Linked DNA regions of Homo sapiens. The protein of the gene in region 7 purifies or fractionates together with the protein of the main gene of each other region. This does not show direct contact. Each region holds a gene or a part of one and is shown on either strand. Other genes may lie near its edges. The genes, in order: SOAT1, SPPL2B, SIDT2, PIGO, EVI5L, DNAJC17 and PTH1R.

Region 1 (3,500 bases), on a different chromosome or scaffold from region 7:
CTCCCCAGTATTGGCTCATCCTCCTTTGCATAAATTTCACATTTTATATCACACTAAAACTAGCCCATATGCCATATAAATATGTCATATATAGCTAACTAAGAGCCTATCAATAAACCTCATTATGCCAACTCAAGCAGCAATGTTTACATTCCTGGTGGGATCCAGCTGTTGATATTTAAGTTTAATTAAATTTAGGTAGGAAAAACAAAACTGTTTCTTTATGAAAAGAGATGAAATGCCAAAGACAACCTGTCTCAGAAGGTTCCGCACCTATTTGTTAACTAAACAATCCTCAATTTTCAAATCCTTGTTGAAATCAAACCTTTACAAATGTCACTGCAAAAATTAATACCCTGATGCAATAGATGACATCAATTAGAGTTGTGTTTACAAGTCTATCATTCATAATCATAAACCTTGACCTTAACAACAAAGGACTATCGTATTCCTCTTTGTAGTCAGGCATTAAGCAAACGTGGATACAAGAACTAATAAAACTCCCTAACTACTCCTCTCCCAAGATTTATAGCTCAGTATTGAACTGGGTTAGGCACCCTGCTAATTACTCACATTTTACTCATTACATCTATTATGAAAGTAGTTAATTACAAGAATATTACACTGTGATAAATCTAGTTATGTGTATGATTTTGGAGGTTTTGTCATTCACTTAACTTGGAGCTCCATAATGGCAAACAAATCCGTACTGATCACTGCTATAGCCCCAGCATCCAGCGGGGGACCTCAGCAATTATTGGTAGGTTACGTGACTGAATGAATGGTCTCTAAAACACAGCAGATACCAATAGATGACCACCAAATTAATTAACGAGAAAGGACTTATTGTCTAATTGCTTTGTTACTAGACATATAAAACTCTATCAATACCCATTTACAATAAAGAATTAAAGAGATGGCAATACTTATTCTATAACACTGTATTTGTTCTCTATTTCACTAATTCACCTAAAAAAAAAAAATTAAGCCTCACCATTACTAGGTGTCTCTAGGGACTCCTTTGCAGGGTTTCTCTGGTCTTCATCTTCCTCAGGATTTTCCCTGGACTTTGACAGCCGGTTTCTTAGAGACATCTTCTCTTCACCCACCATTGTATTGTCTAGGAAAGAAGGTGTAAAAAGCTTTCGTATTAGTCCGTTTTCACACTGCTATACACTACCTGAGACTGGGTAATTTATAAAGGAAAGAGGTTTAACTGTCTCACAGTTCCGCATGGCTGGAAAGGCCTCAGGAAACTTACAATCATGGCAGAAGACCAAGGGGAGGCAAGGCATGTCTTACGTGGCGGCAGGAGAGACAGAGCAAGGAAGTGCCACATTTAAAACCATCAGCTCTCATGAGAACTCCCTCACTATCACGAGAACAGCATGGGGGAAACTGCCCCCATGATCCAATCACCTCCCACCAGTTCCCTCCCTAGACACGTGGTGATTACAGTTAGAGATGAGATTTGTGTGGGGACACAGAAGCAAACCAATATATCAGCTTTGAACTAAGCATCTGGCTTACGTGAATTTCACAATACCACTATATTTAGGAGAGGTGAAATGTGATGATACATTCTCTTCCTTTTGCATTAATCATTTCAAAGCATTTTCTGGGTACAAGATACTCAAGATAACAAATCTGAAGAAATCAGGTCCTATAAAATAATTGGAATGGTTTTGAAGCCCCTTTTTAAACATAGACCCCACTCTTAAAGAACAATTTAGTTGAACAAAGCATTAAGTATGTAAAAAAAAAAAAAAAAGGATTAAATAGTAACAGGTAACTACAAAGATGCCACAGGGTGGAGTATGATTTAATAACAAAGTCAATGGTAAAAACAATACCTTAAGTTCAGAGACAGCAGAGATTAGCAGAAGATGTAAAGGTTTCACAGAAAAGAAGGTATTTTAGACACAGTCTTGAAGGATGAGAACTGTGCATTCCATGTGCAAGAAAGGATTAAAACAAGGACCTTATAAGCCCCGTTCAGGGAACCATGAAGGAATTGAACTACGACAAAAACAAGTTTTTGTTAAGTATCTACTAAGTGCAAGGACCCTGCCAGATGCTTTAAGTTTTCTCATTTAATCTTCATAACAATTCTGAAAAAAATTACCCTCAGTTTTCACATGAGAAAACAATGATTTAAAGTAGTTACTATCAGTGTCCTCCACCCATGTACCAGGAATACACCTGCAGTTGAACAAGCTGAATTTATAGGAATGCACACCACAGCCCCAGGTACTAGAGTCTGCTTTTCTTCTCATTACAGTAACTTGCCCAAGACCACACAGCTAACGACAGAGCCCGATTGGAACTGGCATTAGTTGGATCCAAACTACAAAGACCACTAACTACTGGGGGAAAATAGTTGGTAATGGAGAAATGTGATGAGGGAAAAGACTAGAAAGGAGGACAGGAGTCAAACTATAAAGGCCTAAGAAATTAGAAGTTTTTCAGGAAGGCAGTGGTGAGACACTTTAAGCACTAAAAAACATGATCAAAGATCAATATCAAGATAGTACAAGGTTTACTCTAAAGCCATGTGTTTCCCTAGTTGGGCATGGTGGCACACAGCTGTAGTCCCAGCTACTTGGGAGGCTCAGGCGGGAGGATGACTTGAACCCAGGAGTTTGAGTCTGGCATGGGAAACATAGCAAGACCACATCTCAAAATTATTTATTTATTTATTTATTGAGAAGGAGTATCGCTTTGCCCAGGTGGGAGTGCAATGGTGCAATCTCGGCTCACTGCAACCTCCGCCTCCTGGGTTCAGGCAATTCTCCTGCCTCAGCCTCCCGAGTGGCTGAGATTACAGGTGACTGCCACCACACGTGGCTAATTTTTGTATTTTAGTAGAGACAGGGTTTCACCATGTTGGTCACGCTGGTCTCGAACTTCTGACCTCAAGTTATCCGCCCGCCTCAGCCTCCCAAAGTGCTGGGATTACAGGCATGAGCCACCGCACCCGGCCAAAAAAACAATTTTAAATAAAAAGTAAAGCAGTGTTTCACTATGTGATAAAGTTTTCAAGAGTCTAAAGCAAGAAGAAAACAACTGTGAAATACTCATTACATTATTTTAAAGCTATATATATTTAAATTCTGAGACTACAGTTTTTCTTAATTTTTGTACTAAAATATCCTTTTCTGTATAAAAGGATGAAATATAGTACATGGTGGGTTTGGTTGTTTTTCAACTATCACAGCTTGGCAAAGTAAAAATCTGACAAATCTAGATCGGCTTTCTTCTAATTATTTCTGAAATCAAACAAATGAAACAATTGTGGAACAGCAGATGAATATATCAAGTAGAAATGTTATGATATCATAAGATCTAATTAAGAGGAACTTAAGGGAAAAGTCAGGGCTAATAAATCACAAGACGATGCCCAACTTACAATGGTCCAATTCTGTGTAAAAGTGACAGAGGAAGCCACAAGAGCATCTATCTCTTCATCAGAAATGATGAGAGAAGTAAGAACTGAAAAC
Region 2 (3,500 bases), on a different chromosome or scaffold from region 7:
ATTCGCCTCCTCTCCTGGGACCCTCACTCGAGGCTCGGGTCAGGCTGGGGGCGCCTGCTGGCTCCCCCTCTGCAGCTGACAGCCTCCGGCCCCCCAGGAGGACCCAAGAACAGGGAGGCCGAAGGGCATCAAGCCTTCTTCACCTGACAACAGGGCCCCAGGCCTAAAAGCGCCACTAATCCCTCCCTCGGCCGTGGGACTCCCGAACCGCACATACAAGTCCTGAGTGATACTTGTCACAGCCCATGCCTGCCCACTAAGCCGCCTTGAGCCCCGCACCCACTGAGGGCCTCTCTCAACTACGACGGCAGCGTGTGCGGACAGGGATGGCACTCTCGGCTCTGCCCGGCCTGCTCTGCCCTCGGCCCTGAGCCCCTGCACCAGGCCTCCGTGGATTGCCAGGCTCAGGGTGCAACACTGGCGGGGGCAGCCCAGAGCCACAGGCAGAGCTGTGAGGGAATTCCTGAACTCCATTCCTTCTTACTCCAAAACTACACTTCAGGGGCGGCCACGCACCCTGCCCAGCCCAGCAGTCGGCATGTCCCTGTGCTGTGACCAGCCCTGCCAGGCCCCCAGCTCTCAACCACAGCCCCATTTCACAGAAGATGGAAAAGGGGCCAGGCTTCAGGCCACCTGGCTAGGACCACAGGCGAGCACGGCCCCACCGGCTAGAGGGCAAGGGCACCAGGGTACCCAGAAAGGACCAGCTCAGGGCCAGGCCACCTGCTCCTCAGAAGCCACCCCAATCCCATCCCCACAGAGAGTGTGGTCTCCGTCACCCCTGGGGGCTGCTCTAGGACAGGCACCCAACAAGACCACGGCCAAAGTTCCACAGCCCCAGCCAGCAGCTCAGGAAGAACAGACTCATCTCCGCCCTCCCCACGGCCACACTCGGCCCGGATCCTCCCCATGTTCACACTCGGCCCAGATCCTCCCCACAGATGGATCTGCCTTTAGCGAGAAGTCGGAAGACCAGCCCCAGCTGCTGCCATCTCTGCCTCCTGCACCCCCCTCCTGCCCCTGAGAGCTGGCCCAGCGGGGGACGCACAGGGCCGTACCAGCCTCTCCCTGCTGACGATGAGCAGCCCGCGTGCTCCGCTGCCCTGGGCCAGCCTCACTTTCTCATAGAAGGTGCAGTTCCCCCGCGCCACCAGCGGGATCTGGTTGCTGAAGCCACGGGCGGGGAGGTCGGCTGCGGAGCAGAGCAGGGAGGCCGTCCAGTTGCGCAGCTGCAGGAAAGACTGGAAAGGCCAGGGCACAGTGTTGTCTCACGTGATGTGAGTCACCAGGAGGGCCCAGCTGCCCGTTCTCCCACCTGAAGCCTGCGCTGAGTTAGATCCCAGCCCTCACCTAAAGCCCCGCACGGCCTCGGCCCACCTAGGCAGAGCCATCCCTACTGCAGCTCCCACAGCCGGACCCTGGGCGACGGGCTGGGCTGCCTCATCTGAGCGGGGCCGGAGTCCTCACAGACATGGCTGTCCCCTGATACCTGAGCCACCCCGCGAGCCGTCACAGATCACTCAGCAAGACCAAGTGGGTCCCCACCGCAGCCCCACCACGGCCAGGCATCTGTGAGAAGGGGGAGGGTTTCCAGTGTGCAGAGAACAAAGCCCCAACTCTCAGGGGCCTCACAGCCCCTGAAGCCAAGACACACACGCACACACACACGCACACGCACACACACACCCACAGCCAGGCCGGAACACGCGCACACACAAGCACACGTCCACAGCCAGGCTGGAGCACACGGCACACACATGCATACATGCACACACACACACACACCCACAGCCAGACCAGTGCACACGCACACACCCACAGCCAGGCTGGAGTGCACACACACACACACGCACATAGCCGCAGCCAGGCCAGCGCGCACACACACACACACCCACAGCCAGGCTGGAGTGCATGCACACACACGTGCACACATACACAGCCAGGCCGGACCACATGGCACACATATGCACACGCAAGCACACACATGCACACTCACACTCAAGCAGACACATGCCTATTACACACATGCACACACACACGCACACACAGCCAGGCCAGAGCACACAGCACACGTGTGCATATACAAGCACATACCTGTGCACTCAAGCTCACGCACACACACCTATTACACACACATGCATACACACACGCCACATGAACTCACACACTCACACGCACATACCTATTACACATGCACTCACACACACTCATGCACACACACGAACCCAAACACACAGGCACATACACATCCACACACAAACCTATTATCCACATGTACACACACATACACACAGACCTATTACACATGTACACACGCACACATGTGCAGACACATGCACACATCCACAAACATAACTATTATGTAGCTACATGCTTACACACACCTGCACACATACAGACACACATGCACTCACACATCCATACACAAAACTATTGCATGCACACTCACAGGCACATGTGCACATAAAAACAGACATACACATTCAGACCCATGCACATGCCCCCACACACCTATTACACACATGCTCACACACACAGGTGTGCTGACACACAAACACGCACTAAGGCACACATGTCCATGCACATATCTAGTACACATGTGCTCACACACACAAACTCAGAAATATGCACTCAGGCACATGTCTTCACACATACCTATTACATGTGTTCACATACCTATTACATGTGTTGACACACACCTATGTGTTCACACACAAAAAAACACTCAGGCACATGCACACATACACTGATGCAAACTCACATAAACATGCAGACACATGAGCATGTCCAGGCACATACTGATTACACACGTGCTCACACGCACACACTATGCATAAAGCTGACAGGAAGATGCTAGTGCCTCTTCGCCGGCACACCTCGAGGGCTCCAGGAGGGGGCGGGACACAGTGGGAAAGGAGGCGGGGCCTGAGGGACTCAGTGGGAAAGGAGGCGGGGCCTGAGGGATGCGGTGGGAAAGGAGAGAGGGCCTGAGGGATACGGTGGGAAAGGAGGCAGGGCCTGAGGGATGGGGTGGGAAAGGAGGCGGGGCCTGAAGGATGCAGTGGGAAAGGAGGCAGGGACAGAGGGGTGTGGTGGGAAAGGAGGCGGGGCCAGAGGGATGCAGTGGAAAAGGAGGCAGGGCCTGAGGGATGAAGTGAGAAAGGAGGCGGGGCCTGAGGGATGCAGTGGGAAAGGAGGCGGGGCCTGAAGGATGCAATGAGAAAGGAGGCGGGGCCTGAAGCATGCAGTGGGAAAGGAGGCGGGGCCTGAAGCATGCAGTGGGAAAGAAGGCGGGGCCTGAAGGATGCAGTGAGAAAGGAGGCGGGGCCTGAAGGATGCAGTGGGAAATGAGGCGGGGCCTGAAGGATGCAGTGGGAAAGGAGGCGGGGCCTGAAGGATGCAGTGGGAAAGGAGGCGGGGCCTGAAGGATGCAGTGGGAAAGGAGGCGGGGCCTGAAGGATGCAGTGGAAAGGAGGCGGGGCCTGAGGGATGCGGTGGGA
Region 3 (4,092 bases), on a different chromosome or scaffold from region 7:
CTCACATCCCTCGCAGGATTAGGGGCACCTGGAAGGACACCACAGCCTCCTTCTGGCGGACCACAAACAGCAACGGCGCCCCCTTCTGCTTGTTCAGGACGTTCACAGACACACGCACGCCCTCTGTCTGCAGAACGACATGGAAATGCCTCTCAAGCCTCTGCCACCAGGGACACGTGGCTCCAGAGACTATGAGCCCTGCCCTCCTTCATGCCAGCTACTTTGGTCTTTCTCCATCTTGGTCGGGCCAGGGAGTCATCTCTGCCTCTTCTTCTGCCAGAACAACCCCCAGACTCCAGGAAAGACCTGTGCTGAGTGCAGCTCCTGGCCGGCAGACATGTGCAGGGCAGCAGGACCCAAGCAACCGCAGGGTCTCACCCTCTGCCAGGAAACACGGTGGAGGCCTTGCGAGTCTCCAGGATACCCCATTCCTATCCATGTGCACAGGATGCACAGGCCTGCACACACAAACGTGTACACACGCCCCCACACACGAAGACACAGGAGAACAAGAAGTGCTCCTCAACCTTCCTGTGAGCCAGGAAGCCAGCAGGAAGCTCTAGTTAACAGCTAACCTGGGGCCAGAGCCCAGAGGAGTTGAGGAGGGGTAGGTATTGAAGGCCATGTTGTATCCTTAGCTCCCACCAAGGGACAGGGCTGTGGAGAAGTCACTTTACTTCTCTAAGCCTCAACTTCTCCCTCTATAAAATGACAGCCGGGTGCGGTGACTCACGCTTGTAGCACTTTGGGAGGCCAAGGCAGGAGGATCATCTGAGGTCAGGAGTTTGAGACCAGCCTGGCCAACATGGTGAAGCCCCATCTCTACTAAAAATACAAAAATTAGCTGGGTATGGTGGCAGGCGCCTGTAATCTCAACTACTTGGGAGGCTGAGGCAGGAGAATCGCTTGAACCGGGAAGGCGGAGGTTGCAGTGAGCTGAGATCACAAAACTGCACTTCAGCCTGGGCAACAGAGTGAGACTGGTCTCAAAAAAAAAAAAAAAAAAAAAAAGATAAAGTGATCTTCACCCTTGGAGCTATGAAGGAACATATATAAACAATGGGAGCTTAAAGGAAAAATAAAACCAAATCGATCTTGGAATGCTTGTTATTGGGCTGCTGAAACCCAAGCCCTAGGGCAGCATTTCCCAAAAGAGTAAAAACCACAGCTCTCCAGTGCCTTTAGATATGGGAAAAAAGGAAGAAAGGACTCTAAGCAGAAAGAGATCAAACTTCAGAGAACCAGGCACTGGGGGCAGATCCTGGCCTGCCACAGAAACCAAACCACTCCCCGTTCTGAAAAAAAATCAGATTCCCCATTCTCAACTCCATTGCTTCTCAGTAAACGGCAGTCATGGAGAGAGAGCAAGAGACCCGGGCACGAGACCACACAGCCAGGTTGCAAGAATTCTCCCAATCTCAGCTCTGCCTGGGGTCTAGACTTCCCACACTAGCTGTGTCTATTTCAACTCAGGGACTCACAGCTGGTGAAGAAACCAAAGAGAAGTCAGGGTGAAGTGGATTTTTCACAGTGGACAAATTCCCCTTCTCTTCCCACCCAACTTGCAGTTGGCCTTATAAAACCTCTGTCACCCTCAATTTACAAGGCCAGCTGGCTCTCCCAGGCAGGAAGAGGGCTGGGAAGCCCTGCATTCATCTCCCTGGGGAGTCTGAGATGTAACTTGCCTGCACAGAGCTTTTCAGTTCTGGGCCAGTCTCATTCCCCTGAGGTTTTCTGGGCAAGCCCAGTAATAAGCCTGTTTCCTCTCCCACCGAGACCCCACAGAGCTGTCAGATTCTGGGGTTTAGGGTAGAGAGCAAGCCATGTGTGCTCAGACCACAACTGATGGAAGAATGGGGGCGGAAGAGAAGATGGGAATGAGCCAACTTCAAAAACTGCCCAGCTGGAGCTTCAGAGAAACATTGGTGGCAAAGGAAGGAGGACTGGTCAAGAGGCTCCAGTGTGGTTCTGGGAACTGGGAACCTAGCAGGACAGCTCGTTCCTGGGGCCTCCCAAAAGGGTAGCGGGGCGGCAGAATCGCCTAGCCCTCGTCGGCTTCCCCACTCGCCTCTGGCCCCTAAGCCCCCAGCCCTCACCCTGTTGCGGGTCACAGTATGGTTGAAGGTGTAGATGTTGACCAGCTCGCTGTTGACCTCGTCCACGTAGGTGCGCTCAAACTCGGCGTCTTTCTGCGAGACGTTCTTGGGCCCCAGAACCCCCAGATGGCTCTCGACCGAGGCCACCAAGAGCACCAAGAAGGGCAAGCCCAGAGCGAACATGGCCCCGGCAGGGCGGCAGTGGCAGCGGTGGTGGCGGCGGCGGCGGCGACAGGAGACAGGACACCTCCGGGACGGGTTGCGGCTGCGGCCGCAGCTTCCAGCATCTCACCAGGACCAGAACTTTAACCCCGGCCTGAGATTAGGAAATGTCCCCTCCCAAGAGCCCCGAAGAGGCTCCCAGGGTCCCCGCAGGGGAGGGGGCGGCCGGGAGGGGGCGGGGAGGGAGGGGATGCTGGCTACGGGAAGGGGTCCCAGCTCGCGAGGGGCTGAGTACGACCTGAGACCCTGGAGCCCCGGGCCAGGGCCGTGAGAAGGAGGGCGGCTGGTTGCCGGGAGCCTGGAGACGCCGGGAAAGGGGAGGGAGGAAGAGCCGGCGGCGGGGGCTGGCCGCGGAGGAAGGCGAGTCGCAGAGTGAGGGGCGTGATAGGTGGTAGCTACCCGACGCCGTGCTGGGCTGCGAGTTTTCCGAGGTGCGGGCCCTTTAAGGGCGGGCGGACGCGCCGTCCCGACGCACGAACACTGAAAAGTGAGCTGCGCCGCTGGGCGATAAACAGCAGGGCTGCTGGCCCGCCCGCTGACGTCAGGGGAAACTGACACAGATTTAAAGGACCAGGTCCCGCATTTGCCCTTAAAGGGGCTGCAGCTGTCTAGCTGAAGGGGAAAGCTTGCAATGCCTTCTCCAACTCCTACCCAACTCTCTCCCGTGATTTTCACCATCTCTGAAACTCACGTTGGAATAGGCAGATGTTTCTGTTAACAATCTCCAAGTGTTGGGTTCTTGCTGAACAACTCTTACATTTGCTCAAACATAAGGATTCCCCCACCCCCACCACCACCTTTACAACTAACATCGTCCAACCCTGGGCCACTTTTTCTCCGGGGATCTTAAAAAATGAAAAACTCGAAGGATTAGGAAACAGGACGGTGGCCCTACCGGCGGAGGGGAAACGGAGGCAGCACTGCAGGAGGAATCCCCATGCCTTTCCCACCTCCCTCTAGAGGGGCCACACAACTGCAGGGACGGCCTTCCGAGCTTTCCAAGCTTGCCGGGCTGTTTCCCCTCTTCTCTCAGAGACAGTTACAAAACTCATTGAAAGATACTGACCTTCAGTGTAAATTGGTGAAAACTTTTCTACAAAATATTTTGGCACTGTTTCAAGAAACTTAGAGAGCTTTATACCCTTTGATCCAGTAATTCCACTTCTGGACTCTATCCTAAGGAAATAGGAAGCACAGATAAAAATACCTGGGCAGCTACGCTTATCACTGTGATATTTATAATATAAAGCAAAAAGGAAATGACTTGGATATCCATAATGAGGGATTGGTTAAATGCACTATCATGAAGGCATCAAAAATGATGCTTAAGACTTCACAGGACACGTAAGCAGAGAATTCAGGATATGACACTAAATAAACAGTATATAGAGCCAGGTGCCGTGGCTCACACGTGTAATCCCAACACTTTGGGAGGCCAAGACAGGTAGATCACTTGAGGTCAGGAGTTCGAGACCAGCCATGGCCAACATGGTGAACCCCATCTCTACTATAAAAATACAAAATTAGTGGGGCGTGGTGACGCGTGCCTGTAATCCCAGCTACTGGGGAGGCTGAAGCAGGAGAATCGCTTAACTCTACCAGGCGGAGGTTGCAGTGAGCTGAGATCATGCTCCTGCACTCCAGCCTGGGCTGCAACAGAGCAAGACTCTGTCTCAAAAATAAATAAGTAAATAAAACCGTATATATTCCAAATGCATATAGACATGCATAGAAAAATAGAAAAAAATTGTACTAAACATTTAGCAATGTCTCC
Region 4 (2,702 bases), on a different chromosome or scaffold from region 7:
ACACAATTTTGGCTTCAAGTCAGGAATAATGAATGGGACAAGGTGGAATGCTACATAAGATGGGCATGTAGATCTGATAAAGAGTGGCACAGGTTGGGAAACAAGGGAGGCTTCCACAGAAGGGAAGGGCAAAGGGTGTTCTATAGTGAAAAGGCCCAGTGGAGCGGGGGCATAGCACTATTTGGGGCTTCAGACAGTTAAAGTCGGTGCTGCATGATGCCTGGGCTTGTCTTCTCAGTCTTCTCTCTTTATCAGACAAAGAACAGGAACTTAACAAAATGTGTTGCATGGCAAAGGAAAATAGCGGTGGGATAATAGGATTGATTTGGGAAGAGGTGGAGGCAGTGAATTCAGACAACTCCAACCACTTCATAAAGGTTCTCAGGTGCAGCCAGGCTTTCCTAAGATGACTGATCTCATCTGTGCCTGGTGGCAGGAGAGACTGATCCTCCTCACAACCCCTATAGAACAGTGGGGCTCCCCCACATCTCAGACACACATAATTATATTATCATTTTATTACACTTTTTTTTAAATAGTAGAGACGGGGTCTTGTTATGTTCCACAGGCTGGTCTTGAACTCCTGGGACCAAGCAATCCTCCCACCTCTGCCTCCCAAAGTGCTGGGATTATAGGTGCAAGTCACCACGCCCGGCCTATTTTATTCCACTTCGGAGACCGCCCCCCTTGTCCCTCAGATGCATCCAAATCAGGAGTTAGGGATCATACTCCACTGTGGTCCTGAATTATAGAATAATGAAGTCCTAGATGTCAGCGGCCCCTGGCTGCATGATAGTAAGAGTATGGCTGAGCCTGTCTTGCAGATCATCCAGTACCTGTACAGGCCAGGCTACACTGTTCTCAAGCACTCTCTGTAGCCAAGTGCCAGTAATCACAGACTAGGCTACCTCTGCTGGGCCAGAAATAGCTGCCTGAACCAGGAGCTCACAGCACCATCCACTCTCATCACCAAAGCTATGCCCAGGAGAAGTCCCACGCTGCTCACAATGAAGCCCACAGCCTCAAATATGAACCTGCAAAGAAAGGCGGAGAATCTCAGGCAACAGAGTAGGTCTACTGCCTTTTCCCTGTAGAGGCAAAACCTTGGCCATCCTGGATGTTTAGGATCTTCATACTTTGTTCCAAGTTTCTCCCTCCCCACCACCTCTACTTCTCAAGCAAATCTACTCACTTAGGGGCAAACACTTTCCAGACCATGAGATGCCTGCGAAGGATGGAGGCTGCCAAGGCACAGGCCAGAATCTAGAGGAGGAGAGGAGGGGCCACGTTACTTGTGAAGGAGAGGAGGAAGCGGAGCAAAAGGAGAGTTTCTATAGGCCCCTGTAAAAAATGGAAGCAGGAGAATAGTGCATGTCAGTGGAAAAAATATTGCATGTCCTGGGCTAGGAGTTAGGAGACCTACTTCCTGCCCTGCCCCAAGCACTGACTCACTATGTGACTTTGGGCAAGTCAGTATCCATCTGCAATGCTAACACTCAGGCTGTGCCCCCAGGATGGAGGAAGATATCAGTGCCACATCTGCCTCTGGAGGAAAGGAAGAGGATCCATGACCACAGTTTGGGAAGAAAATCCTGGCTATCACCTCAGTTTTTCCAGTCTGTCCACTGATAGAGTAATCCTCAAATGCAACTAGCGGGGTCCAGATCTAGGTTGTAGAGGGGAAATGATCCAGGACTAGGATTAAGGAGACCCAGGTTCAAGTCTCAGAACTGCCATTTGAGGCCACTGGGCTTGGGCAACCACTTCACTTATGTGAAACTCAGTCAAGGCTCTCTCCCACGGTTTTGAAGGTCTGAAAGAAAGTGATGCACACACAGAGAAAAAACACCAACTCCCTGATCTCTCTCCTACACCCACCTGAATACCAAGGATAAAGAGGTACTTGAGGCCCAGCTGCAGCAGTGCTGCATAGAAGTGCTGAGGCGCATCCCGGAGCCGCATCTCCATCAGTGGCTCCTCTTCCTCCTCGGGTCTGACTCTGGCATCAGCTTCATTCCCTGGGGGCTGCTGTCTCTTCCGCAGCCCTTGACTCTCACACAGGAAAGGCCAGAGCAGGAGCAGTGGGCAACCTACTGCCTCAAGAGAGGGTATGGCTGGAATCAACAGGCCACCCTGGCTGGCTCAGGTTCCAATTAGCCTAGGCCAAGGGGTGCCAAAGATCCAACAAACCCATATCTCTCCATTCAAATCCAGGGGTTTCCTTTCTTTCCACAAAGCCAGAGTAAACAATGGAAGCAAGTGAAGGAGGAGGGGGTACCTGCAAAGAGGAGGTGGGAGGCAAAGGTGTTGGCTCCCACTAGCAAAGCAGGCAGCCAAGTACAGGAGCCATGACCCTCTGGGAATCCCACGAAGGCTGCATGCCAATGGATGGCTGGAAAGACAGGCTGGTGGCCTGTGGAGTAGAAGGTCTGTGTGGCCATGAGGGCCCAAGCCGAGACTGCCTGCCATGGCACAGTAAAAGGACCTGGAAGAAAAGATATGCCACGTTACAGTCACTTCTTATTCCCTAATCCATAGGCTACTGCTCCACAATCATATACTCCTACTACTTCAGTATCAATTCTCATACACACTCAAATGCCTATCAGCCCAACCTCCTTACAGTCAACATTCTGTTATTCTAATTCTCTCTGTGGTACAAAAGCGCCATCAGGCTTATCTGAATCCTGCTATGGCCAATC
Region 5 (4,259 bases), on a different chromosome or scaffold from region 7:
TGCCTCCTGTTGGTCTGATCTTTATGCTTTTACCCCTCGAAGAGGCCCTGACACCACCTCCCCCAGGAAGCCTTCCCTGATCTCCCTGCACATTTGTCTATTGAGCACCTACCACATTAGTGCAGGCTTCCCCCTGCCCAGTGCCTGTCTCCTCTGCTCCACTGGAGACCCCCTCAGAGCCAGGCACAGGGCAGAGTACCCCACATTACCCCTGGAGGCGTGAGCAGAATGAATGCAACCGGGTCCTGTGCTTCCTGAAGCCCAGCGATTCGGCATGCCTCTCTCCTTCAGGGGAGGCCCAAGTTGATTCACCCAGGTGGGAAATCATGCCCTGCCCCCAAACTGAATGCCCTTCTATCCTCTCCCACCCCCATTCTATGAGACTGTGGGGAGCTCCTAAGGGCAAGGACAGCCCCACCTTCCCTCAGCACGGTTTTTGGTCCCTGGGCTGGGCACCCACCGCTGCTTGTGATTCTCCTCCCAGCCCGCAGGCCAGTCCGTGACTGTGTAAATACACTTTATTTTCCATTTTTCCCGCCTGGGCGACATGTGAACAGGCAGTGTGCAAAATGGTGGCGGGCAGTGTAGGGGGCGTGTGGAGAGCCCCGTGGGTGCCTGCCCCGGTCCCCAGGCTTCGTAACACTGAAAAGTGGGCAGCTAGGAAGCGGGGACGGAGCAGGGGTCCCCACCCAGGAAGCGCCAGGGAGATTGCTTGTGACGCTACTCTACTGGAGGCTCCGGGAGCACCGAGGGGGGCAGCCCCCAGGGTCATGAGGCCCGGGGGGCCGGGGGAAGGGAGGAAGGGGCCTGGGGGGCATCGTTGGATTTTGGCACCGTTCTCAGCTCTGATTCAGCAGAGACAACGGGACCACCAGGAGGAAGTGAGGGGAGGCCGCTCGCTGGGAAGCTCCTGCCTGGGGGCCTGGCTCTGGCTGAGGGTGGGGCTGGAAACACATGAAGAAAGGGAAGTAGATGGAGACCGAGGACCCCTGTAGAGATACCCCTCCATCACTGGCCAGGATAGGGGGCGCGAGTGTCTCCCAGAGAAAGATGTGGGGCACTGGGGAGAGGGGTCTCTTCACTTCCTGGAAGCTGCTCTGGCCCCAGAGAAGCAGGGAGGCTTCCCGTTAGCCACTCAGTCCCCAGGCGCCCCGCACATAGTAGGGGGACTTTGGTTTCCGCTGCAGGGGCCACGGTGCCTGCGCCAGGCAGGAGAGGCCGGCCTGGCCATCTGTCCCCAGCGGCCTGACTCCCCTAGAGATGGCCAGGGGCTAGTCAAGGGTCACTTCATCCCGAGGAGTGTTGTGGGGTGCTGATGTCCAGCCCAGAGCTGGCGCTCTCCTTCCTCAGGCCTCGGCTACCTCCTGAGCACTTCCCAGCAATGTCGCCCCTGTCCCAGAAGGAAGCCTGCCAGGAGGTGGGAGCTGCCTGCTCATTCAGTGCTGGGACCTCTGGGTCGTCTGTCCCCTGCCCTCTGCCCTCCTGTTAAGAGAGCAGTCAGCCCCTCCAGGCACCCCTGGAACGCCAGAGGGCCCGGAGGGGTACAGACCAAGATGGGTAAACACTGCTGGGGATAGAGAGCCTGCCCCGGGGCCCTGAGGAGCCCAGGTCGGACCCTACCCTCTGCGCTGCCTCGCCGGGCCTCGCTTTAGGGGTGGCCGAGCCACAGAGGGCGCGTAGTTTGTCAAGTGCGGCAGGTGGGGAGCAGAACGCGGACTGCCCGGGCGCCCCCCGCGGCTGCGGCCTCCTGACTCCGGGCGCGCTGGGCATGGCCTCAGTTGTCCAGACCCTGGCTGTAGGGCGCGGCCAGCTCATCGGCGTCGCTGTCTGAGCTGCCCTCGCTGTCCTTGGCCGGCCGCTCCAGACGGCGGAAGAAGCGCGCATCGCGCGGGGACAGAGGGTACAATGCGTCCTGCAGGGCAGCGCCCACGCCTACGCCAAGTAGCTCCTCGTCCGACGACGGCAGCGAGTCCTCGTCCAAGTGCCGCGCCAGGCTCAGCCCATCGAAAGCCAGCGGGTCCTCGAAGGGCGGCGGGCCCTTCAGCAGCCGCACCTGGGGCGGGGGACCGGCGCTGCAGGCGTGGACCGGCCTTCTGCCCCGCCCTCCCAGCCGCATCCTCCGCAAGGCACCTGCGCTCGGCTCGTCCCAGGCCGACGACACCCAGGCCTGTCCCCGGCATCCCCGCGCCGGCTCACCTCGGCCTTCAGCTCCTCGATCTGGTCCTTGAGCTCGCGGATGTACTGCGATGAGTCCGAGTGGTTCAGCTGGCCCTGGATGCGGCCTTCCTCCCTCTGCGGGGTGCGCCAGGTCACGCGGGGCCAGTGCCATGCTGGGCCTGGGGTCCGGCCCCGCTCCTGCCCCGGGCCCTGCCCCCGCCCCCGCCCCCCGACCCCGGCCCCGCCGATCACCTGGATCTCCAGCTCGGCAATGCGCTGCCGCATCTCGGCCACCGCAGCCATGCTGTCCGCCTCCCGCAGTCGCACAGCCATCACCTCCTCCTTGCTCTGGGGTCGGGGGATTGGGGGGAAAGGAGGGCGGGTCAGGGGGCGCGGCGCATCAGGGGGCGGGACCGCGGGCAGGGGCGAATGAGGAGGCGGGGCCGCGGGCGGAGGCGGGTCAGGAGGCAGGACCGCGGGCAGGGGCGGGACCGCGGGCAAGGGAGGTGCGGGCGGGGGCGGGTCAGGAGGCGTGGCCGCGGGCGGGGGCGGATCAGGAGGCGGGACCGCGGGGGGGGGTGGTCAGGAGGCGGGGCCGGATCAGGAGGCGGGGTCGCGGGCAGGAGCAGGTCAGGAGGCGGGGCCGCGGGCGGGGGCGGGAGGACCGCGGGCAGGGGCAGATCGGGAGGCAGGACGCCGGCAGAGGCGGATTGGGGGCGGGGCCTCATGTAGGGGCGCGTCCGGGGGCGGTGCCACGGGCAGGGCGGGGCCGCGGGGGTCTGCACCTTGCACTCGGCCTCGGCCTGCTTGCGGCGGCTTTCGCTGAGCTGCGTCTGCAGCCCCTTGTTCTGTGCAGCCAGGTACTGCAGCTTCTCCTGCAGCGCCGCGCGCTCCGCCTCCACGCGGTTCAGAAGGTTGCGGTGGATGTGGTCCTGGGATAGGGAGGAAGGGAGGACGGAGGACGGCGGCGGTCAGGGCCTAACTCAGGGGCTGGCCACGGACACCACGCCCCTTCCCCAACGAGCAGGCCCCCCGAGTCCACCTGCGTCTCAAGTTCCACCACGCGCTGCCGCAGCTCGCGGCCCTCGGCCAGGGCCTGGGCCTCGCGCAGACGCACGCTCATCAGCTCGTCCTGCAGCTCGCCCACGACCAGCTTCCGTGGGGACTCCTTCCAGCGGCCGCCGCGGGCCAGATGGGCCTGGGGGGTGAAGCCGAGAAGCCGGCGGTCAGCCTCCGCCCAAGAACCCCGAGGGGATGGCCCTAGGGGGCGCTCTGCCCGCCGGCGCCCACCCGGCCCTCACCTGCCAGGTGTCCGAGAGCTCCTGCAGCTGCAGTTTAAGCTCTCGCGTCGAGGCCACCGCCTGGCCTTCCCGCACCTTGAGCGCCTTCAGCTCCTCCTGCAGCTGCGCCACATTGTTCTCGTCGGGCAGCGAGCTGTTCCTCTGCGGGAAGAGTGGGGTCAGGGCCTGGGGGAGCAGCGCAGCCGCATGGCCCTTCCTGCAGGACAAACGCCCCCAGCCACGTTTCCTCCTGAGCTCTGCCTTGGGCGGCTCAGATGGGGGAGGGCGACCCCCTTGACAAGGCCCACGGGGAGCGGACTCGCCTGTGGAACCCGGTTGGAGTTCCTCAGCTATAAAATGGGTGTAGTAACAGCACCTACTCTCACAGGGTGTCCTAGGGCAACCCCCATAAACGCCGCGCTGCACACACTGACTCCCCGAGGTCTGAGATCCATCCCCTCAGGGACATGATCAGGTGGAGGACCTGCCCCAGCAGAAACACCCTGTCTGCCCTCTGGCCCCCAGGCCAGGCCACACCAGGCCAGGCAGTCCCTCTCCCTGGGAACAGGCTGAGTGCCAGCCTTGGCCCTGTCCTGGTGTCCCAGGGCTCATTGATGGAGGATTTGTGCTCCAGGACCCAAATCCAGCTTTCTGGATGAGGTCCGCACTGACCCGTGTTTGGGTCTAGGGCTGGGACAGATCTAGCAGCATGTCCTGGAGGCACACTTCCCTATGAAGTGGAGGGAGGCGGGAGCGGAGCCCAGCTCTTGGCTGGTGATGAGGGCCTGGAAGCAGATGGCCTCTCAGTCCTCCATTTGGGAG
Region 6 (3,500 bases), on a different chromosome or scaffold from region 7:
CTTGGAGCCACCCTTGGCGGGCCCCCAGCCCAACCCTGGGCAGCAGAGCCCGCCCATCACAGGCATGGCGCTGCTCCCCATTAACACACCCTCTGCCCCCCTTCCTGTTCCTGCTCGTGAGGGCCTGACAGCGGGGCTGAGTCACCCATACCAGCTACAGGTCTCTTCCTTCCCCAACAATCGTTCCACACGCCTGCCTTTCAATTAACTCCCACCCGCCCCGAACTCTTCCTACCCAGACACTGTGGGCAGGGAGCCAGGCGCACCTGCTGGGGGCCCAGGGTGGTGGGGCTGTGATCAGAAAGGAAGCCGCGTGGTGACACATAAAGCAGGGCTGCCCCCACACGAGTCCCCAGAGGAATCTTAAGCTCCCCATTGCCCTGGGGTGTTGGTCCCAGCTGCCCCATCCCTGCACGCGGATGCTGCAATTACCCAAGAGCACGAAACCTGGCTTCCCACCTGACTGAGTCAGCTGAGAACAAAAACACATCTCCACCGCCACAAACAGCCAGGCCACTCATCAGAGTCCGGGAGCCACTGGCAGAGAGGGCACGGCCCCACACTGCCCCAGAGACATATAGGAGCCAGGCAAACACCAGGGCGAGTGAGCTCGGGCCATCTGCTGCCTGCCTGTGGAAGGAGCGCTCGCCAGCCTCACCCAGCCCGAGAAGGTCCACCTCTGCCTCCGCCGGAGCTGCCCTCATTCTGGCTCCAGTAAGTGCTGCTTCTTCCTCCTGGGTTTTTTTCCACTACCCTATTCAGTAACCAGGCCACTCCTGTCCCTGTGGGAAACTCTTGCTGCCAGGAACTCCCAGCTGTCTGCTCTCCTGGGCAAAAAAGTTCCTTCTTCCTGAGCCCTCCTCTCACCATCCAAGATGTGGTCAAAGGTCTGTGCTGAGTGGAAACCCTGAGGCCTCTGCTCCTAGGGGAGCCTCCCCAGCTGCTGGCACTCACTGCCCCAGCAGGGACCACATGCACCCTGGCTGCTCCTGAACACCTGTCTGCTGGCTCCCCTGGGCCCCATGGAGACCTGGCGGAAAGGCTCCTTCCGCAACGCCTCCTTCTTCAAGCAGCTGAGCCTGGGGCGGCCACGGCGGCTCCGGCGACAGAGTAGTGTGCTTAGCCAGGCCAGCACAGCAGGTGGGGACCACGAGGAGTACAGCAACCGAGAAGTCATCCGGGAGCTACAAGGGAGGCCAGATGGCCGGCGCCTGCCACTGTGGGGGGACGAGCAGCCCCGGGCCACCCTGCTGGCCCCACCCAAGCCCCCACGCCTCTACCGAGAGAGCTCAAGCTGCCCCAACATCCTGGAGCCCCCACCTGCCTACACAGCAGCCTACTCTGCCACCCTGCCATCGGCGCTCTCTCTGTCGAGTGCCCTCCACCAGCACTCAGAGAAGGGCCTTGTGGACACTCCCTGCTTCCAGAGGACACCTACCCCAGACCTCAGTGATCCCTTCCTCTCCTTCAAAGTGGACCTGGGGATTTCACTTCTTGAGGAAGTTCTGCAGATGCTAAGGGAGCAGTTTCCTAGCGAGCCCAGCTTCTAAATGGGGTGAGGGTGGGCAAAGCCGGGGTGACTGGAAGATCCAGAGGCTGGGGATTAAGGAAAGGACAGGGACAGGACTCCAGGCCCATCGCTGGAGGGTTCAGGCAGGCAGAGCTTCTTCATCCTGGGGGAGGATTCCAGGATAGGAATCCAGGGCTCTGCCTGCTCTCTGGGTCCTGGACAGTCCTTCCAGGCACCCCAGAGTGGAGGGACAGAGGCAATCTGGAAATGTTGGGGGGGCGGCCCTTCCTGGCAGGACCCTGAAGAAAGCTGGCTATGCCGGGAAAGGGAGGCTGTGCCGGGAAAGGGAGGCTCTGTGCGGCACTACAGGAACCAGGTAGAGGCTGGCAGAGCCAGAAGGTGGCACGGGGTCAGATCAGGGAGTGGGAGGACACAGACTGAGCAGAAGAGATGAGTGCCCCATGCCAGCCTCTTTGGAAGCCACTGTCAACAGAGAGAGGTCACAGGACAAGCTTGGGTAAAGGCAGTCCAACCCAGGCAGAAGAGGAAAGTGGGAAGGCCCAGGAAGAAAGGGGAGAAGGCCTGACCCTGTCTAATCTGGTGGCCACTCACTGCATGACACTGAATTGAAATAAATAAAATTAACAGTTCAGTTCCTCAGCTGCACCGTTATTCCAGATTCCACATTCCAAATGCCCGGTGGCCACACATGATTAATGGCTACCACACTGGTCAGTGCAGAATGGACGTAAACATCGCTGCACAAAGTTCTAATGGACAGCGCTGTCTAGACCATGGCCTGGAGCCACCAGCAAAGGGGAGGCGCATACAGGGGCTGGCCACATAGGAAGAGATAGGTAGAGATAGAGTATAACTCAGGAAAAAGACCAGGCAAATCCTTAGCAGAAATGAGGACGTGGCTCAGTCTGCCAACACAGCTACCCGGAGCAATCCCTGGTGAAGGAAGGCAGCTCTAGAGAATGCCAGCCACAGGCACGCGCACGGCTTGCAAAGGGGTACTTTGGGGAATTCCCAGAATTACTAGTGATGGGAGCCCTGGCAGGTTTCCTTCCTCGAAGAGAGGAGAACTGGATCCAGGGATGGGCATTCAACAGCGAAGCGGCACAGCTGGTTTCCAGAACCGTCTCCCGGGATTAGACAGTTCTGCCGCCTGAACCCTCCGACGATGGGCCTGCCAACCAGGCCAAGCCCACTGGGTCAAAGCCACAGGCTGTGCTACGGCCCCACCCCATGGCCTCACCAGAACACAGAAACCAGAGCCCAGCAGCACTGGCTGGGCCATGTGTTGGTGGCCCCCCGGGACTCGCTAAGAGTAGCAAAGGGGAGAGGGAAGCTCTGACACACACCATTTCTACGACCTAAATCAGTGGCCTCCCTCTTTCCTCCTCTTGTGTATAGGTACCGAGCTGTGGATACAGGAGAGAATGAATAAAATTCTAACACAATCTATGGAGTGTTATCTGGGGCTGTGAAATGCTGGGACTTGAAGGTGGGAATGAGGTCTCTAAAGCAGGGCCCTGAGTCAGGCCCAGGCCAGTTTGTTTCCCTCCATCCAGGATCTGGGACACACTTGCAGAAAGCTGCTTTCCAGTCACCCCAGTCAAGTGGAGGGGCAGGCAACGGAGCAGGCTGGCGTGGGTAAAGTAATGAGAGCAGCCTCCTGCCAGCCTGCTGAGGGGCTGTGGACACACCAGACAGGCCCTGGGCCACTGCAGAGAAGGGAAGAACCAGGTTGCTAGATCTTGCCCCCAAAGCAATCTGTTCCACCAAGGTGGGGACAGGTGTGGCCAGGAGCCCCACAGCCCTAGCCTTTGTATCCAGGCCAAAAGACACCAGGGCCATGGTTGCAGGTTGGGGGTTACACACAAGCTGGAAGGTCTACGCTTCACCCAGGCAGGGCACCCAGACTCTGGGCAGGCACCACCCCGTGTCAGCAGGGTAGCCAGAGTTCCTTCTTTTTTTTTTTTTT
Region 7 (3,500 bases):
CATATTTTGACGTAAATGTGTGTCTTAGAGATCTTCATTTCAGTAAATATGAATCTATATTTTTAAATGCTGCATAGTATTCCAAAACCTGGGACTCATTAAGTAGTCCATAGGAATGTACATTTAGATCATTTCTGCATAATTTGTGTGTGTGTCTATATGTGCGTGATTCCAGATGGTGGCAGGGAAGCTCCTTGAAATGCCCTCTAGTGTCCCCATGTGACTATTTCCTAGTAGGATATTTCTAGATTTTGTCATTGCTGGGCCTGAGAATATACATATTTTTTATTTTAATAGCATGGCCAAATTGCCCTCTAAAAAGCTTGTGCTGCTTTGTACTTATACAACACCAAGACCAACCAGGAGGGCCTCTCTGCCCACACCCACTGTCTCATAGGATGTTAAGAGGATTCTTTGTGTTTCACCTTTGCTTGGATAGGTGAAAATGGTGTCTCTTGTCATTTTAATTTGCTGATTACCAGTGACTTCTGGGCTTTACAGTGAGAGCTTGCTCGGGGCCATTAACCATCATTCTATGGGTTATTTGTCTTTTTCGTATTGATTTGTTGAAGCTTTTTATATCACCTGCTCTTAAACACATTCACCTCAGCTCTTGAAACGGCTTATGGACAGAGCAGCAGGAGGGTGCCGAGCCCTCCGAGGAACTGGGGTTTTCTTCGGAATGTTTTAATGAGGCGTCAAGTAGCCTCCCTCAGATTCCTGTTGTGGGCCTTCTGGGGACACTCCCTGGTCCAGCCACCACATCAGGAAGGCAGCTATTTCAGAAGGAGAGTCCTCAGGAAAAAGAAAAGGTGGGGCGAGGGTTTTGCAGACCTCTGAAATTGTCTGCAAAATACGGTGTGATTGGGAGAAGGGCGCAAACTTTTGCTCAGGTTTGCAGAAACATCAGAGACCTTCAAACCCTTAAAAGCCCCAACTCTGGGGCCAGTCTTATGCCCGAGGTGAGACCTAGTGGGATCCCATTCTGCTGAGCAGGCGATGGCTTAGATTAGGCCATACTGTTCTTCTGGGCCTTGATTCCTCAACCCAAGTAGGGCCTGCTTATGAAGATCCACCAGGTCGTAGCAGCCAACTCCGCTATCCCAGGCTGCATCCCACTGCCTGCCCCGAAGGCGGCCACGCTGGCTGGCCAGGATGAGAGGCGTCACAGTGCCTCTTCCCCCCCAGCCCCTCCCAGCCCCAAACACAGGCAGCCTGTTCAGGAAAGCCTGGCGAAGGGGAGGAAAAGTCAGCACTTGTCAGCGGTGGCGGGGCAGGACGAGGAGCCTGCTCAGGCCAGCCGGACAGAGAGAGGGCAGCAGGGGTGGGGGAGCAGTCCCAGCCAGCTGGCACGGGAGACATCCAGGGGTGCCAGCATGGGTCCCAGTAGTAGAACCTGGAGGAGGGCTGTAGGAAGGCCAGGAGGTCATGAAGGGGTCTCCTGTTAGCCAGGGTTTTCTCCTTCTGGCTGTGCTGGAGGCATCAACGGCCTGGTTCCCAACACCAGAGCCCAACTGTCCTCTACCCAGTTACAGCTGGGGACAAGCCGCCATCACTGGCATCACCGGCACCTTTATGTCTACACACCTCTGCTCCTAAATCGGCTTCGGGGAGGCTGCCTTAGGGGATCTGCAAAGGGAGACTTGCTTAATGTAGCAGCTAAAATCCAGGATTATGGAAAGATGATACCGTGGCTGGTGCCAGGGTACCCGTGTGGCTGGGCACTTCCTCCTCTCTTTCCCTTCTTCCAAGGCTGCTGCTTCAGTGTCAAGCAGATCTTAGCTCCATCCCTGGCCCTCCTCTTTCTGTGACTCTTGGCCTCAGTGTCCCTGTCTGTAAAATGGGGATGTGGTAGAAGGTGCAGGAGGCATGGGTTTTAAAGCTCCTTGCTGACCATGGGGAGGATGTGCTACAGTGGAGGGTATTGAAGCCAAGCACCATGATGGCTGGGTTGGGGGAGTCAAGTCAGCCCTAATCAGGACCATAGGAGGAGTGTTGGGGGGATATGGGACAGCTGGTGCAGGGCTGGGTGGCCTGTAAGTGGTGGGTATGGACTAAGTGACCCCTGGCCACAGCCCAGCCCCAGTCCCTCAGTCCTCACCCCTGAGACCCAAGATCTGCAGATCCGCTGGATCTAAGGGGACGCAAGCCTGAGTCCTCTGCACCCTGGCGCTGAGCCAAGAAGACAGGAACTCCTCAAGGGAGAGAGGGTTGGAGGGGCGGGGAGAAGGGAGTAGCAGACAGGGGGCATGCCAGGCTGAGAAGAGATACAGCTGTCAGCATTTCCCCTTCATCCCCAGGAGATAAGGCCTCCTCAGTCAGGGCAGAGGCAGAGGAGGGGGTCCTTTTTCCTCCTAAGCTCAAGCTTGGGGCCTCTGGCAGTAACCTTGAATCCTAATGTAAGTCCAGAGTGGATCCAGAAATGCAAGGAGCCATTGGGATACTCTTCCATCCCAAAAGCTTGCCAGGAACACCTTATCTAGCAGGTCCTCCTGTAGTCCCTGCCCCCAGTCCACCCTGGGGCCCCATCTCCCATCTGCCCCTCACTGTCACCTGCTGGACTCAGCCATCTACCCAGATAATCTCCCCCAGCCACCTTGGGTCCCTGGCCTGGCTGGGAGCACCCATGTCACCAGGCAGCAGGGGTGCACATGGCGGGGATGTGACTTGCTGCTGCTGCTGCTGCTCACAGTATCAACAATAGCAACCAGCTTTTCCTGAGCTTCACCCCTGCACAGGCTTGTTGTGAAGTACTTCATTTAATCTTCACAGCAGCTTTTTTTTTTTTTTTTTTTTTTTTGAGATGGAGTTTCGCTCTTGTTGCCCAGGCTAGAGTGCAATGGCGCGATCTCGGCTCACTGGAACCTCCGCTCCCAGGTTTGAGCGATTCTGCTGCCTCGGCCTCCCGAGTAGCTGGGATTACAGGCGCACCACCACACCCAGCTAATTTTGTATTTTTCAGTAGAGACAAGGTTTCTCCATGTTGGTCAGGCTGGTCTCGAACTCCTGACCTCAGGTGATCCACCTGGTTTGGCCTCCCAAAGTGCTGGGATTACTGGTGTTAGCCACCGTGCCGGGCCAACAACAGCCCTATTATTACCCTGATTTTACAGGAAAACTGAGGCACACGGGTTAAGCAACTTTCTCAGACACGAAGCTAGTCAAGGGTGGAGGTGGGATTCACATTGTGGGGCTGGTGGCAGAATCTCCTTGAAGAGGAGGGCACAGCTGGAGGGAGGAGTGAACAGGAGTGGGGGCATTCCAGGCACGGAGCTGTGAGCTAACGTTTGGAGGGGTAGCGCACTTGGTGTGGGGTTGTCCTCCTCTTCTTGGGAAAGTGCTTCCTTAACTTTAACATGAGTTATTCTTGTTGCAATGGCTGTGCTAACAGATAAATAGGTCCTAAAGTTCAGGGAGGCCAGAGGTGGGGCCACCACCCCTATGGATGAATGAAGGAGTGTGGGAGTCATGCGTGCTGGAAGCACATATCTTTCCCTCTC

What was found.
Region 1: the proteins of PTH1R (region 7) and SOAT1 purify together in Homo sapiens (affinity purification with mass spectrometry; 2 studies listed by BioGRID and IntAct, with this or other methods). This does not show direct contact.
Region 2: the proteins of PTH1R (region 7) and SPPL2B purify together in Homo sapiens (affinity purification with mass spectrometry; 2 studies listed by BioGRID and IntAct, with this or other methods). This does not show direct contact.
Region 3: the proteins of PTH1R (region 7) and SIDT2 purify together in Homo sapiens (affinity purification with mass spectrometry; 2 studies listed by BioGRID and IntAct, with this or other methods). This does not show direct contact.
Region 4: the proteins of PTH1R (region 7) and PIGO purify together in Homo sapiens (affinity purification with mass spectrometry; 2 studies listed by BioGRID and IntAct, with this or other methods). This does not show direct contact.
Region 5: the proteins of PTH1R (region 7) and EVI5L purify together in Homo sapiens (affinity purification with mass spectrometry; 2 studies listed by BioGRID and IntAct, with this or other methods). This does not show direct contact.
Region 6: the proteins of PTH1R (region 7) and DNAJC17 purify together in Homo sapiens (affinity purification with mass spectrometry; 2 studies listed by BioGRID and IntAct, with this or other methods). This does not show direct contact.

Annotation. Positions count from the first base shown.
Region 1 is NC_000001.11:179,300,297-179,303,796, reverse strand, and holds part of SOAT1 (sterol O-acyltransferase 1), read right to left. Parts: intron 1,121-3,500; 5' UTR 1,113-1,120; coding exon 995-1,112; intron 1-994.
Region 2 is NC_000019.10:2,335,184-2,338,683, reverse strand, and holds part of SPPL2B (signal peptide peptidase-like 2B isoform 2 precursor), read right to left. Parts: intron 1,242-3,500; coding exon 1,059-1,241; intron 1,053-1,058; exon of another isoform or gene 1-1,052. UniProt on the Homo sapiens protein: Intramembrane-cleaving aspartic protease (I-CLiP) that cleaves type II membrane signal peptides in the hydrophobic plane of the membrane. Functions in ITM2B and TNF processing.
Region 3 is NC_000011.10:117,177,451-117,181,542, reverse strand, and holds the start of SIDT2 (SID1 transmembrane family member 2 precursor), read right to left. Parts: upstream 2,801-4,092; 5' UTR 2,280-2,800; coding exon 2,097-2,279; intron 128-2,096; coding exon 6-127; intron 1-5.
Region 4 is NC_000009.12:35,088,188-35,090,889, forward strand, and holds the end of PIGO (GPI ethanolamine phosphate transferase 3, catalytic subunit), read right to left. Parts: intron 2,486-2,702; coding exon 2,279-2,485; intron 2,098-2,278; coding exon of another isoform or gene 2,094-2,097; coding exon 1,879-2,093; intron 1,264-1,878; coding exon 1,193-1,263; intron 1,035-1,192; coding exon 905-1,034; 3' UTR 501-904; downstream 1-500.
Region 5 is NC_000019.10:7,861,218-7,865,476, reverse strand, and holds the end of EVI5L (EVI5-like protein), read right to left. Parts: intron 3,600-4,259; coding exon 3,459-3,599; intron 3,356-3,458; coding exon 3,200-3,355; intron 3,090-3,199; coding exon 2,943-3,089; intron 2,506-2,942; coding exon 2,410-2,505; intron 2,293-2,409; coding exon 2,197-2,292; intron 2,054-2,196; coding exon 1,775-2,053; 3' UTR 501-1,774; downstream 1-500. UniProt on the Homo sapiens protein: Functions as a GTPase-activating protein (GAP) with a broad specificity.
Region 6 is NC_000015.10:40,769,474-40,772,973, forward strand, and holds part of DNAJC17 (dnaJ homolog subfamily C member 17), read right to left. Parts: intron 2,977-3,500; exon of another isoform or gene 1,551-2,976; coding exon of another isoform or gene 1,023-1,550; exon of another isoform or gene 507-1,022; intron 1-506. Other genes in the region: C15orf62 (uncharacterized protein C15orf62, mitochondrial precursor), read left to right, coding at 1,023-1,550. UniProt on the Homo sapiens protein: May negatively affect PAX8-induced thyroglobulin/TG transcription.
Region 7 is NC_000003.12:46,887,721-46,891,220, forward strand, and holds part of PTH1R (parathyroid hormone/parathyroid hormone-related peptide receptor precursor), read left to right. Parts: intron 1-3,500.